4 linked regions of the Homo sapiens genome follow. The protein of the gene in region 1 interacts with the protein of each later gene in a biochemical or structural test. Each region holds a gene or a part of one and is shown in the gene's direction. Other genes may lie near its edges.

What was found.
Region 2: the proteins of CDC7 (region 1) and PGK1 form a complex in vitro, tested with the Homo sapiens proteins (one study listed by BioGRID).
Region 3: the proteins of CDC7 (region 1) and MCM10 form a complex in vitro, tested with the Homo sapiens proteins (one large-scale study listed by BioGRID and IntAct).
Region 4: the proteins of CDC7 (region 1) and ORC5 form a complex in vitro, tested with the Homo sapiens proteins (one large-scale study listed by BioGRID and IntAct).

The regions. Positions count from the first base shown.
Region 1 is NC_000001.11:91,502,860-91,508,759, forward strand, and holds part of CDC7 (cell division cycle 7-related protein kinase), read left to right. Parts: intron 1-4,994; coding exon 4,995-5,078; intron 5,079-5,402; coding exon 5,403-5,538; intron 5,539-5,900. UniProt on the Homo sapiens protein: Kinase involved in initiation of DNA replication. Phosphorylates critical substrates that regulate the G1/S phase transition and initiation of DNA replication, such as MCM proteins and CLASPIN.
Region 2 is NC_000023.11:78,121,248-78,124,747, forward strand, and holds part of PGK1 (phosphoglycerate kinase 1), read left to right. Parts: intron 1-1,587; coding exon 1,588-1,702; intron 1,703-1,947; coding exon 1,948-2,127; intron 2,128-3,500. UniProt on the Homo sapiens protein: Catalyzes one of the two ATP producing reactions in the glycolytic pathway via the reversible conversion of 1,3-diphosphoglycerate to 3-phosphoglycerate.
Region 3 is NC_000010.11:13,206,558-13,209,083, forward strand, and holds part of MCM10 (protein MCM10 homolog), read left to right. Parts: intron 1-2,526. UniProt on the Homo sapiens protein: Acts as a replication initiation factor that brings together the MCM2-7 helicase and the DNA polymerase alpha/primase complex in order to initiate DNA replication. Additionally, plays a role in preventing DNA damage during replication.
Region 4 is NC_000007.14:104,131,514-104,135,013, reverse strand, and holds part of ORC5 (origin recognition complex subunit 5), read left to right. Parts: intron 1-3,500. UniProt on the Homo sapiens protein: Component of the origin recognition complex (ORC) that binds origins of replication. DNA-binding is ATP-dependent. The specific DNA sequences that define origins of replication have not been identified yet.

The DNA.
Region 1 (5,900 bases):
TCTTAAAATGCCACTTTCATCCAGTTTCATGGATACTGTTCCTCTTCCTTTCCATTTTTCCAGCAGTTAGCTGTTTTTTTAGTTCATCTTTCCCTTACTAGTCACTGGACACATAACACAGTAACACAGTCATTGTAGTATTCTTTTTCTATTGCTTAGGACTCTGCATTTTGTCTCCACTGTAAACCCCTTGGCGGCAGTATCTCCTCTGGTTTCTAAAGTATGTTGTGACTTCAGCAGAGTATCTGAATGGATGACTCTGAATTGGTTCTAGCATCATGTTTAGGAGAATGCCACTATTCTAATATTCTGAAAATCTGCTGGGAAGTAATGAATGGGGTGAATTTTATTACGGATTTCAAAAGTTTTGTAGCGTTTATGTAACAGAACATTGGACATTATAATATGATAAATTATAAAACGTGCTAAAACTTTACTCTTATGGTTCTTTTTTAAATATGATCTTAATAACAGCTAAAGTTATATAAACATAACTTCAATAGGGAGCAAAGCTGATGAGGTCCAGGCACATAACAGTCTAGTAATCTAATTGGGAAAGTAAATCAAATTAGATCATGAGACAGGTATATGCCTGCACCTCATCAACTTTACTCCTTATTGAAGTTATATTTTTGATTGGATGTTTTATATATCTTAGCATTCCCAGAGCTTAACAGTGTCCAGCACATAGTAGGTGCTTGAAAATATTTGAATGAATGATTTAATGTAAGGATATAAAGTAAAATACTTAGTGTAATGGATGAATAGCATGTCTCTTTATTTTGAGATATTTGTCAGATTTTTATAACATTTTTCTGATAAACATGATTATTGAAATTTTTGAAGTAAAGAAAGCCAAAATAAAGTCTTTTCCCATTATTGAAATATTGCCACTGTTGACATTTTGTTATATTCCTTTAGCCTTTCTAGGCATACATAGGTACATTTTTTAGAAACTAAATTGGGATCTTGTTTTGTTTTTGTTTTTGAAAAGAGAACCAGAATATGGGATCTTATTTCTGATCTCCATTTTTTTTAATATATATCTTGAATATTGCTCATGTAGTAAATATTCTACAACTGGATTTAAGGTCCATTGCATATTATATTATAATATATTCAATCACCTTTTACTATTGACCCTATAGATTGTTTCTATTTTTTCCTATTAAGAAAAATGCTGTAATGCACAAACTATCTGGCATAATATTGGTCAAATGTTTATTCTTTCACTGTTTTGGCAAGCTTTTTTTTTTTTTTTTGAGACATGGTCTCTCTGTCACACCACTGTCACTGGAGTGCAGTGGTGCAATTACAGCTCACTGCAGCCTTAACTCCTGCACTCAAGCAATCCTACCCCCTCAGCCTCCTGAGTAGCTTGGATTACAGGCATGTGCCGCTACACTCAGCTAATTTTAAATATTTTTTTTAGAAACAGGATCTTGCTATGTTGCCCAGGCTGGTCTCAAACTCCTGGCCTCAAGTGATCCCCTCCTATCTTGGCCTCCCAATGCACTGGGATTACAGGTGTGAGCCACCATGCCTGGCCAGTAAGCTTTTATTTTTTTTTAAGTATCTACTATATGCCAAGTTTTAATAAGTGAGAAAGATCTGTTCAGTGAAAGAATGATGTATAAACTCTATATTGAAAGTCTCCTCCATACTGGTGAACTCTACTGGAAGGAAGGCTTGCTTCATTCTGTTTGCTACAATGACACCCTTAGCCATGCTTCTAAAATGGGCTATGGGTACCATCTTTGTTTGCCTGGGACAGATCTAGCTTACGGCTATTGTCACAATGTAATTATTATTCCTGCTGCCTTTTCACTCAAGAGTGTCCCAGTTTGGGCTTATATTATGTATTATCCCCTAGTTCCAGGAGGTATAAACCAGAGAGTACATGAAGCCCCAGAATAACCATGACTATATGCCTAGAGTGTCAGTTTTAATCCATGACAAGATATTGAAAACGTTTCATTTATGTGATGAATATTTATTGTCTGTTATATACATGTACTTTTTTAGGTGCTAGGGATAAATCAAACCATAAAACAGAAATTAACACTGTGGTAGTTAGACAATAGACAGAGAGTAAACAAAAGAAGTAAATACTGTGCTCAAAAGTGATTAATGTTACTAAGAAAATGTAAAAGGGAAGGGGAGATAGGAAGTATTGGGGAAGGAGATTGTAATTTTAGTGAGTATGGTTGCTCATAGCCTTCTGTAACATTTGAGCTAAGACTTCAAGGTGGTGAAGGAGTGACCTGTGCAGATATTTGGGGAAGAGCATTCCAAACAGAGGAAACGGCAAGTACAAAGACCCTGAAACGGCAAGTACAAAGACCCTGAGATGGGAGTGTGCCTAGCATTCAAGAATAGCAAGGAGGTCATTGTGGCTAGAATGGGGAAGGTAATTGGAATGAAGTCAAAGAGAGATGTAAAGAGGCTTTCTAATGGAGTGAGATGTGAAACCATTAGAGGTTTTGAGCACAATAGTGACAAGGTGACTTAGCTTTATCAGAATACTCTGTTTAAACTCTGTTTGCTATGTTGCAAGCCGACTGGCTACTATGTTACAGATAGACTCCAGGCTGGCAAGGAGTGTAGTTAAGGAGACTATTGGTATATTAAAACCAACTTGGATATATTATGCAGCAGAAAACAAAAGTGACTTAAAATGTCAAAATAGAAGCCTAGACCTTCATGTATAAAATAGAGGCATTTAAATAATTTTTAGCATATTATAGATTTTCGGGATCCTCCTCCAGTCCTCAAAGTCTGTTTCATTTGTCTGTCTTTAGTACTGTTTTCCAGCTTTTGACATGAATGCACTTTTCTGCTTTCTGCTGTCATTTCCCACTTCAGAATTTGAGGATATTGCATTCACTTTGGTTGCCAGGAAGTTTTACTGTTGTTTAAAATTGTTGAAGTTGTTCTGAAGTGACAGGAAACCTTAATAAACATTTTGATTTTTGTAAAGAGGAGTAGATGCATAATAAGTGAGTAGTGGTGTGGAAGTACCCTTAATGTTTCTCCTCCCTTTCACATCTGTTCTCCACTTGTCATTTTTCTGCTTAAAAACTTCCTATAGCTTTCATGTGCATTCTCTCTTGTCTTCCTCAGCCACATTCTATTTCTATTATTGTTATTATTGTTATTATTATTGAGACAGGGTCTCCCTCTTCCATCACCCAGGCTGGAGTACAGTGGCACGATCATAGTTTAGTAACCTCAAACTCCTGGGCTCAAGGTATCCTTCTGCCTCAGTCTCTGTAGCTGAGACTACAGGCCCGTGTTACAAAGCCCAGCTAATTTTTGTTTGTTTGTTTGTTTTTTAGCTTTTTTAAGAGATAGGGTCTCAAACACCTGGCCTCAAGCAGTCTTCTTGCCTTGGTCTCCTAAAGTGCTGGGATTACAGGCCTGAGCCACCGCCCCAGGCCACATTGTATTTCATTGTCTCTCAGCCCTCCCCCTACCCTAATCATCCAAGCCTTTTTTTTTTCTTGTTCCTGTCTTTACAGACGTAGTTAATTTTTCCTAAAATGTTTTCTTCCACTTTCACTACTTGGTGAATGCTTCAGAACAAAACTTAGCTGTCAACTGAAGGCTTCCTATCACCTTCAGAAATCCTCCCCAACCTAGTAGTATATACATTCTTTTATTACAGGTGTCACCTTGTATTAAGAATGATAACATGTTTCCTTTACTAGACCAAGCTCTTAGTGGCTGCATCAAATTTATTGGTTTTTTTTACATACCCATTGCTGAGCATTTTTTAAGACAGCGTTTATTTAAATGAATTAGTTCTAGCCAGGTGCGGCGGCTCACACCTGTAATCCCAGCACTTTGGGAGGCCAAGGTGGGCAGATCACTTGAGGTCAGGAGTTCAAGACCAGCCTGGCCATTGTGGTGAAACCCCGTCTCTACTAAAAACACAAAAATTAGCTGGGCGTGGTGTTGCGTGCCTGTAATTCCAGCTGCCCATGAGGCTGAGGCATGAGAATCTCTTGAACGCAGGAGGCAGAGGTTGCAGTGAGTGGAGATTACATCACTGCACTCCAACCTGGGCAACAGAGTGAGACTCCATCTCAAAAAAGAAAGAAAATTAGAAAATATATATAATCAGCAACACCTCTGTGAAATTGGGCAAATGATTTAACCTCCCTGAATTGAGTTTCCTTATCTGAAAAATCAGGATAATCATTCCTGCTCTGCCAAGTTCACAGTACTGTTAGGAAGACCTCAAAAGATACTGCATGTGCCGGTGCTTTGAAAATGTCTTAAACTTATGCTATATAGGGCTAGTAGAGCCTAGATACTGTAATAAAATCTGAAGACTTATCTAGTTCTCTTCTGTATCCAGTAGTTTACTGGGTTTTGTATTATTGCCTCCCCTTGTTTTAACTATGTACATTTTTATAAAGAACTGATACTTATTTAAAAGTAGCAATTTATCTGCAGTCAAGGATAGAGGATACTACTGGCAATTGGGACAAATTTTTAAAAATACTTTTTTACATGCTTGAGAGCTTTAGTAGGCCTTCTCTCTGAAAATATAGTGTGAATATTTAATACATAAAATTTTACCAAGCCTTTAAGATTTTGTATCTTTACGGGAAATAGTTTTCAAGAACATCGCAATGTGTCCTTGTCATGCCATCTAGTGATCACAGCACAAATTGTTTAGTTATTTTAAAAATTTGGTGCTTTTTCATGTTGTAATCTCTACAGTAACAATGTATCTCTTAGTATATAATTCCAGTATAGTAGAAATTTGGTGTATTTAATTCTGGGACTGTCATTTTTGTCTGTTCAAGAGGTGTGTGTGAGTTATAGCAACTTGATGGGTTTTAATCTTATCACAATGTTATTAAAACTTATGTATAATTAATTACTCATATTTTATAATTTATTTCATTGAGCTTTTTAAATTTTAAGAAACTGTAAAATATACTGTCATTGATTAAAACTCTAAATTTTTGTTTCCTTGAAAGGTGTTAAAAAAGATATTGAGAAGCTTTATGAAGCTGTACCACAGCTTAGTAATGTGTTTAAGATTGAGGACAAAATTGGAGAAGGTAATCTGGGGATATGCTTTTACTATTTTTACGAGGTCTTTTTTCCATTCTATTTTCCTTTTTTAGTCTTGGTTTTCATTACTATTTCTTATTGAAAAATATACCACTTTTTAGACTATTAAGACCATAGTTTTATTACTAATTATGGTAACAGCTTTTCTTTTTCAACCTTAAAGAAAGAATAAATAATAAATATTTACTGTAAAATGAAGTCCTGTTTTAATGTATTATGCCATTGAAACAGTTTTTACAATCTATCTTAGAATTGTTTCATTAACATTTTTAAAAACCAGATATTGAAAAATTTAATAAATTGTTTTACAGGCACTTTCAGCTCTGTTTATTTGGCCACAGCACAGTTACAAGTAGGACCTGAAGAGAAAATTGCTCTAAAACACTTGATTCCAACAAGTCATCCTATAAGAATTGCAGCTGAACTTCAGTGCCTAACAGTGGCTGGGTAGGCAATTTAAACATATTTTAATTGAACTTGTATATAATTTATAAGATTTTAAAGTAGATATTTAGCAGGGATGAGGGGATTATATGTGAATTAAATACATTTTTCAGTCAAGTGTTTGCAATTTGCTAGCACTTTCCTTCTAACCTTGCAATAGTTAGTTAAATTTATAGTAATTCTTTTAGATTGGATTTCCCTTGAGGCTCGACCTGATTTCCTGTCTTTTATCACTGCTTTTTGTAACCTTCCTGCCAAATCATAAACCTTGGCTTTCATGGTTTACATTATTTTGTAAATGTAGGGAACTCACATTTCACATTTCCCCAGCTATTGACGACCTCATCTAATATTTTATTTAGAAT
Region 2 (3,500 bases), on another chromosome or scaffold:
GCATTGCCTTTGGCTGTTAGGTATCTCTTGTAATAATCTCCTATTTATTACTTTCATTCTGTTGATTTGTTGAAGAAACAGGCATTTGAGCTGTAAGCTATTCTTTAGAAGAAATTGAACTCCTTTCTAACTGCTTTCTTCCCTTTGTGTGTGTATGTGTGTGTGTGTGTGTGTGTGTATTTAAAACAATCTATCTTTACCCTTGGTGGTAACCAATCTTTACAACTGAAATAAATAGTAAATAGTTTCTTGCCATCTGTTCACCCACATCACTGTTGTTTCATACCTCCTTTTCACAAATCCTAGCATAGGGTTTCTCACTGGATAGGCATTATCTTGTTTATTGAATGAAGAAGGAAACAGACACAAGGTGGTTTGTCCACGTAAGTGGGATTTAGTTATATGGGAATGTTTATGGAAGGCAGGCTATTACTTTGTTTCTCTTTAGTTTGGATCTTTTTTGTCTCATAGGGAGATGCAAGATACATGTGTATTTATCTTATTTCCATGTACTAGAAAATAAGATCCCAAAGGGTAGGGATCTTTCTGTTGCCTTTGCCCTGTGATGTTTCTCAAAGACCTAGAATAGTGCTTGGCACAGAGTAGGTGCCCAGTAAATGTGTTGAATTGGGTGACCCAATAAAAATAAATGCCATAAAGAAAATGTCCCAGGCTGGGCATGGTGGCTTAGGCATGTAACCCTAGTGCTTTGGAAGGCCAAGGCAGGAGGATCACTTGAGCTTAGGAGTTTGAAACTAGCCTGGGCAACATAGTGAGACCTTGTCTCTACAAAAAAATTTAAAAAGAAAAATTATCCAGGGGTAGTGTTGTACGCCTGTGGTCGCAGCTACTTGAGAGGCTGAGGCAAGAGGATTGCTTGAGCCTAGGAGTTCCAGGTTACAGTGAGCTATGATTGTACCACTGCACTCCAGCCTCGGCAACAGAGTGAGACTTTGTGTTGAAAAGAGAGAGAGAAAAAAATGTCCCAGCAACTGAGCATAGGGTATGACTTTAGGAATATATATTTTTGTTCAGTATATATTTATTTAGTATACAGTCCAGTCAATCCCTGCTCTAAGGTTAGGATAATTCTGAGTGGCTCTGGGATCCCACAATTAGCAATCGTGCTTAGATACAATTAGCAATCTTGATGCTCTGAATTTGTGTGTGTGTGTGTGTGTGTGTGTGTGTGTGTGTGTGTGTGTTGGGGAATGTGCAAAATAGATGTGGAACCCATAGTTTCCTTAGACAAGAGTAGGTCTTCTGAGCCCTGCTTAAAAAAAGAATATGGATTTAAATCTGTTGTCCATCAGCTTCTAGGTAGAATTAAAAAAAAATGTATTGATGGTAAGTGGGGTGAGGAATTTTTAAAAAGATACACTGATGTCTGGAGCCATACCTTAAAAGGATTTCTTAGAAATGGATTGAGTTTTTGGGTTGGAGAAACATAGGGCAAAGTTAGGCAGTACTTTTGTCACTTTGAGACTTTCTCTGTTCCTGTGCCTTGAAATAGAAACTCAGTTTCTATGTAATACCACTTCTCTAGTCCATTCTTCTTTAAGTGATGATTCTTGCTTTCTCTTGTAGAGCTAAAGTTGCAGACAAGATCCAGCTCATCAATAATATGCTGGACAAAGTCAATGAGATGATTATTGGTGGTGGAATGGCTTTTACCTTCCTTAAGGTGCTCAACAACATGGAGGTAGGAAACAAATGCCAAGTGGATGTGAAATAGCTCTCCATGATAATAGCAGGTTGTATAAATGTAAAAAGAAAACAGTCTTTTGACATGAGCCCTGAAAATTCCCATTTTTATTTATTTTGGCAAGTCTTTCGTCTTTGCATTGTTCCTTTATATTGTATTGTGTCTGGTTCCTGTCTGCTTTGTGAGGCAGTCTTGTTCTTAGTATAGATGCTGACCTCCATCATTTTGGCTCCCCTGTGTAGATTGGCACTTCTCTGTTTGATGAAGAGGGAGCCAAGATTGTCAAAGACCTAATGTCCAAAGCTGAGAAGAATGGTGTGAAGATTACCTTGCCTGTTGACTTTGTCACTGCTGACAAGTTTGATGAGAATGCCAAGACTGGCCAAGCCACTGTGGCTTCTGGCATACCTGCTGGCTGGATGGTGAGTCACTTGAGTGGGTTGGTAGTGTGAGTGAACAGAAACTCTGTGGTGTCATTTATTCATTGATTCAGCCAATCAACAAGCATTTTAAAACAATCTCTATAGGAGATCTGTCAGAGAGGGCTCTGCATGTTGCAGTGAGTCCCTCATGGAAGAATCCATGGGAGAAAAGCAGTGCTATTGGATTACTGGCCTTCAGTAATGCAGTAATGTGTTGCAAAACTTTGTTGTTGTTGTTTTTTTTTTTTTTTTTGAGACAGAGTCTCGCTGTGTCACCAGGCTGGAGTGCAGTGGCATGATCTCGGCTCACTGCAACCTCTGCCTCCCAGGTTCAAGTGATTCTCCTGCCTAACCCTCCCCAGTAGCTGGGACTACAGGTGTGCACCACCATGCCCAGCTAATTTTTGTATTTTTCATAGAGACGGGGTTTCACCATGTTGGTCAGGATGATCTCAATCTCTTGACCTCATGATCCACCTGCTGCGGCCTCCCAAAGTGCTGGGATTACAGGCGTGAGCCACTGTGCCCGGCCCATTTTTAGTTTTATCTGTTTTTTCTTCATCTGTTTAATGTGTATTAAGTACTTACTGCGTACTGGAGATAGTGTCATGTACTTTCATGGTTTGGGTTGTTTTGGATTATGTTGCTATCTAGAAAGCTATATAAGAAAACTTTCTCATATGAAAAAATTAAGTATACTGATTACAAGCAGGGAGAAATGTAAGTGTATATTAAAGACTAATATAGTTGATTTTAGGGTGCTCCAAATATCATTTTGATTGCTGTATAAAATTGTATCATGTTTTTACATGCTAGTTTGCTTATTTTTCTTTTCAGGCATTCACGTATTATTTAGTTCAGTGTTTCTCAAAGTATGTTCCTAAGACCAGCAGTATCAGTATCATTTTTGGAACTTGTTAAAAATGCAAGTTCTTGGGTCCCACCCCAGACCTACCGAATCAGGAACTGAGGGTGGGGCCAAACAGTCTGTTTGAATAAGCCCTCCTGGTGATTCTCATGCATGGCAAAGTTTGAGTACTACTGATCTAGTTTACTGTCATTCCCAACACTATTGACATCTGTTGTTTTGTGGGGGACTGTTGAATTGTAAGGTTGTTTAAAGCATCCTTGGCCACTAGATGCCAGTAGCACCCTCCCAAGTTGCAACAACAATATTTCTAGACATTGCCACATGCCTATCTATTATGAAGGGGCAGAACTGACCTGGTTGAGAACCATTGATCTAGTTTTCACTAACATAAATAGTGTGGCTAAGAATGTCTTTATTAAATAACTTTTGAGGTTTTCCGTTAGACTTGATCTTCCATACAGTAGAATTTTTGAGTATAAAGGGCATGAACAGGTTTATAAAG
Region 3 (2,526 bases), on another chromosome or scaffold:
ATTTTTCACAATCTAGATTATAATTTTTAAGTAGTTATTTATATATTGATACTTGACTTTTTTCCAAACTAGATGACTAAAAATGTCATTATAGCAAGAGCTTATGGAAAACGTTAGAAAAATTAAAAAAAATTCTGTTTATTAAGTACAGGGCACAAATGGAAGGGCATGATGCCTTTCAGCCTCCAGATGGCACTGTGATTGTAAGAACCATGTTTTTTCTGGACTTTTTGTCAGTTGCTTTTTTTTTTTTCCTTCTTTTTTTGAGACAGGGTCTCACTCTGTCATCCAGGCAGGAGTGCAGTGCCATGATCATAGCCCATTGCAGCCTTGAACTCATGGGCTCAAGCGATCCTTCTGCTTCTGCCTCCTGAGTAGCTGGGACTACAGGTGTGCACCACTACACCCAGCTAATTTTTTTAATTTACTTTTTTTTATAGAGACAAGGTCTCACTATGTTGTCCAGGCTGGTTTCAAACTCCTGGGCTCAAGTGGGCTCAGCTGCCCAAAGTGCTGGGATTGCAGGCCTGAGCCACCATGCTTGGCTAGTTCTTGATCTAGAACAGAAGGCAGCACACATTGCCTGTAAAATGTCAGTGGTGAATATATTAGGCTTTGTGGGCCAGATGATCTGTCACAACCACACGGCTCTGCTGGTGCAGCCTGAAAGCAACCATAGATAATACACAGGCAACTGGGCACGGCTGTGTTCAAATAAAACTTTATTTATAAAAACTGGTGATGTGCTGGATTGGGGTTGTAGTTTGCTGACTCCTAACTAGAATAGTGATTTTTTTTTTCTCACAATTTTATCATTGATCGACATATAGGCTACCAGAGTTCTCTTCATTGATACTGAACCAGTCTCTAGAGGTGGAAGGTGATGGTTGGGAGGTTGTAAGGGCTAAGGCCACTGGCGTGCCACCTTTCAGGGCAGAAATTGTGATATGGTTTGGCTGTGTCCCCACCCAGATCTCATCTTGAATGGTAGCTCCCATAATTCCCACAAGTTGAGAGAGGGACTCAGTGGGAGGTAATTGAATCATGGGGCAGGTCTTTCCCGGGCTGTTCTCATGAAAACAAATAAGTCTCATGAGATCTGATGGTTTTATAAAGGAGAGTTCCCTGCACACACTGTCTTGCCTGCCGCCATGTAAGACATGCCTTTGCTCTTCCTTCGTCTTCCACCATGATTGTGAGGCCTCCCCAGCCATGTGGAACTGAGTCCATTAAACTTCTTTCCTTTATAAATTACCCAGTCTTGGGTATGTCTTTACTAGCAGCATGAGAACAGACTAATGAGAACGAGTAGACTCTAAGCTAGGTAAGGGGAAGGGGAGACAGGCAGAGCATCCCCACCCCACCCCAACCCTCTGAAATCCAAGTAAGCAGGCAGACATACTTCCTTAGCTTTATTATATGTCTTCTCTCTTTCTCTCTCTTTTTCCCAGAGTAAACTTCATAGGAAATAAGTTTTCACCATAGTGTTCACATCCCTTCTCAGGGTGGAAGTCACCCACCATTTTAAAAACTAGAGCAAGAAGGGCTGGACTTGGTGGCTCATGCCTGTAATTCCAGCAGTTTGGGAGGCTGAGGCAGATGGAACACTTGAGCCCAGGAGTTCAAGACCAGCCTGGGCAACATAGTGAGACTCCCCATCTCTACAGAAATTTAAAAATGAGCTGGGCATGGTGGTGTACACCTTTGGTCCCAGCTACTCAAGAGGCTGAGGCAGGAGGATCACTTGATCCCTGAAGATCAAGGCTGCTGCAGTGAGCTGTGATCGCACTACTGCACTCCAGCCTGGGCCACAGAGTGAACCCTGTCTCTAAAAAAAAATAAAAACAAAACAAGAGTCCCTGGGCCCTTTGAATAAAAAGAGAGTAAAGAGGCTGGGCACAGTGGCTCACGCCCGTAATCCCAGCACTTTGGGAGGCTGAGGCAGGCAGATCACTTGTGCCCAGGAGTTTGAGGCCAGCGTGGGCAACATAGCAAAATCCCATCTCTCCAAAAAAAAAAAAAAAAGGAAAAGAAAAGAAAGTGAGTAAAGGCTTTTGGGTTATAAAGAGAAAGGGAGAAGGATGATCCAGACTAGAAAGAAGATTATTCCTTTCTTAGCTCAACCTTTTTGCTCCAAAAAAAAGAGGAGGAAGGGGCCAAACATAGATTATCCTGCACCAGAGGGCCAGCTCCTTAAATCTGAGTCTCATCCCAACCACCATCATTTGTAAAAACCAAGGGTGCATTCATTACCTGCAGTGCGTGGATCCCTGTGGTGCCATCATTATCATTTGAAGCTCCATCTCTGAAGCCTCTAGCTTTGTAAGGACCTACAGACCACTTCCCAAGTCATTGCAGGTTTATTTTTGTCGCATTTGAGCATAACCTCAGATTTGGCATACAATACGAATGTCACCTTGAACAGCTTCTCCTTGAATGGGGGCCTACTCTCCCCAGGTGCAGTGAGCACCGTCGTCTTTACATGAGTGGGCCTACACCACCCTGCTGAGTAAATCCATCTGTTCT
Region 4 (3,500 bases), on another chromosome or scaffold:
CCTCAGAAGGAAGCAAGAACTTTAGACCTGGAATCTTGACATAGAACTTGGGGGCTCTGTAACTTTCTTTTGTTTTCTTTACTGTTCCCTACTTCCCATGGGCAATATCCATAGAATAAGCACCCGCTCCTCCCCACACCTGCCCTCTTCCATTCTCTCATCCCTGTGTTTTGTACTTCTTTTCTGCTGACTTTACCTTTCATTCTTTCCCTCCCTCCCATGTGCCTTAGGAATTATTATTCTCCTAATAGTCTTCCTCATTGCCTTAGCTAAAACCTGATTCCTTCTTTGGGATGCTGCTTCCCCTGGACTTACCTCTAGTTGTAGCTATGTATTTTCTCAAACCCTAATCCCTCAGGGTTGGAGGTCATTTCGGTGCCATCCTTCTTGTTGCCACTTCCAGACTGTTACTGCCCCCAACTTCTTATAAAAATGTGGACTTCCTTGAGACTCATGCAATCTGGCTCTATTTCCCTATTCTCCTTAAGACTGATTTTTGTCTCTTCAGCCATTCCACCTCATGTATTGAGATAATAGGGCACCTGGTATCCAGACTTCTTTTCCACCTAATTTTTTTTTTTTTTTTTTTTTTTTTTTGAGATGGAGTGTCTTGCTCTGTCGCCCAGGCTGGAGTACAGTAGTGCGATCTTGGCTCACTGCAACCTCTGCCTCCCGGGTTCAAGCGATTCTCCTGCTTCAGCCTCCTGTGTGGCTGGGATCACAGGCACACACCACCATGCCTGGCTAATTTTTAGCAGAGACAGAGTTTCACCATGTTGGCCAGGCTGGTCTTGAACTCCTGACCTCAAGTTGATCTGCCTGCATCGGCCTCCCAAAGGCCTGGGATTACAGGTGTGAGCCACCGCGCCCAGCCTCCACCTAAATTCTTGACTCTGTTTAAACCCCACATTCTAACGCCTGAGTTCATTCTGTTCAGTCTTCACTCTGTTTCACAGAACAAGGTTGAAGCCATCAACTGAGAATTGAGCTACCTGTGTTAGTGTCCATCTTCTCTTTCTTTCCTTTTTCAGCAGGATGGGGTTCCTCTTCCTAAGGTAGATTCTTCTACCTATGCTCTGAATTCCATCTCCTCCACTTTCCCAGAACCTTTGTTAGTCTCGGCTGTTTGTCCTCTCAGTGGCACCTGACACTGTTGGCTACTCTTTCTTAAAACTCTCTTCTCTTAGACATGATTCCACAGTATTCTGGTTTTCCTCTTTATTCTTTGGTTGTTTTTACTAACAAAGGCTATCTTTACCATCTGACCTTTAAATATAACTGTTCCTTTAGGCTTGGCCCTAGGCTCTTTTCTCATATTACATTTTTTTCCCTAGGCAACTTGAGCCACACCTGTGACTTCAACAATCATCTGTGTATTAATAATGCCCCTGTTTTTAAAGACCAGACCTATTTTTTATAATATTCTTGACCTTTATTGCTGTTTCCCAGCTATATTAATACATTTCCAAAACTGAACTTAGGAATTCTAACCTCTGCTTCAACCCACCAACAAAAAGTGAAATATCTGGCTTTCCTCCAGTGTTTCTTATTTCAGTGATAAGCACTGCAGTCTGCTGTGTTACCCAGGCCTGAAATTTGAGTCCTTCTTGACATCTCTCTCTCCCCCACTCCTAATATTTAACCATTAGTCCTATTGAGCTTACAAAGCCCCTCTTATTTGTCTCAATTTCATTCACTTGTTATCATGATACTTTTACCACTCTAGATCAAGCCACCATCATCTCTTCTCTAACAGTCTAATTGATCTTCTGTCTGCTCTTATCCTCTTATAATTTATTATCCATGCTGTAGCCAGAATGATTTTATAAAAATTTAATGTCACCCTGCTCATTAAAAATATTCAGTAGTTTCCCATAGCTCTTGGGATAAATAACAGAATCTTTTAAATAACTAACAAGGCCCAAATGATCTGGCCCCTACCTGTGCCTAGCCCCATCTAGCACATACACCTTCTTTCCTCGGTATCTGCACTTTAACCACTTTTTTCCATTTTTTATATTCACCATTCTGCTTCCCATGCTTGTATATACAGCATTTTCCAGCTTCTTTTCTCCTTCACCTAGCTAACTGCTACATAACCTTTAGATTTCAGTTTAAATGTCTGCTCCTTAAAGACGCCTTCTCACAAATACCACAACCACCATGATCACCCCCCCATACCACACACACACACGATTTGGAAGTTCCCATTTTGTTCTTCATTATATGTAACAAGTTTTACTTAAATAATTGAGTAATTAGAGTTCATCTTTCTTTCTAGAATACAAGCTCCTAAGCTCAAAGCAGACTGTGTTTATGTCTATCACTGCCTTATCCTCAAACCTAGCACAGTGCTTTAAACTTAGTATGTGCTAAATAAATATTGCATGTTTTCCTATAGTGATTAGCAGTAAAAATTCAGATGAAGGGGAACCATATGAATTTGTTTTTGGGGACAGCAAGAAGGGAGCTCAGAGACAGTCTCATTCCAAATCAAGGCTTGATGGGAGAGGAAGTCCCAAGGATAGTTACCAAAGAAAAGGAAGGCTGGCCTCATTCCAGACACCTGTGGCAGAGAACAAATGAGATAATAGGGATCACAGGATATAACCTAAATGTCTAAAATGGCAGTCAATCAATAGCATCATGTATTTTTATAGAGTTATTGAAAATCACACTTTTGAAGGATAGTAACTTGGGAAAATAACTCATGATGTAAGCTTAAGTGCATGTAACAGTTCATATAAAGTTGCATATACAAGAAAACTAGGAAACTGTAAGGGACAGGAGTAATGGTCAAAAGTCAGTTGTCACCAAGAAATCAAGCAGAATCCTCTGATTTACTGATAAAGCAGTCATTTGTAGCTTTATCCAGAACACTTTCAGTGGTATGATGAAGTAGAAGTCATATTGTAGTATTTATGAGAAAGTAGATGTAGCAAAGAGAGATAATGTTTTTCATTCGTTTATTTAACATTTATTGTGTTGCCCATTATAAACAAAACACTGTGGTAGGCTTTGGGGAGATACAGCAACAAGTATAACATAGCTATATCCTATTCTTATTAGCCTGTATTCTAGGATTCATTTATTTACTTATTTATTTGCTATAAAGGAGAGAGAGTATTTTTTTTTCTTTTTTCTTTTTCTTTTTTTTTTTTTGAGACAGAATCTCACTCTGTCACCCAGGCTGGAGTGCAGTGGCACGATCTCGGCTCACTGCAGCCTCTTTCTCCAAGGTTCAAGTGATTCTCCTGCTTCAGCCTCCCGAGTAGCTGGGATTACAGGCGTGTGCCACAACGCCCAAATAATTTTTGTATTTTTAGTAGAGATGGGGTTTTGCCATGTTGGCCAGGCTTGTCTCAAACCCCTGACCTCAGGTGATCCACCCACCTCGGCCTCCCAAAGTGCTAGGTTTACAGGCATCAGCCACTGTGTCTGGCCAAGAGAGAGGATTATAACTGCTGAAGGGGTTATGTGGTTGAGAGAGGGTTATTATT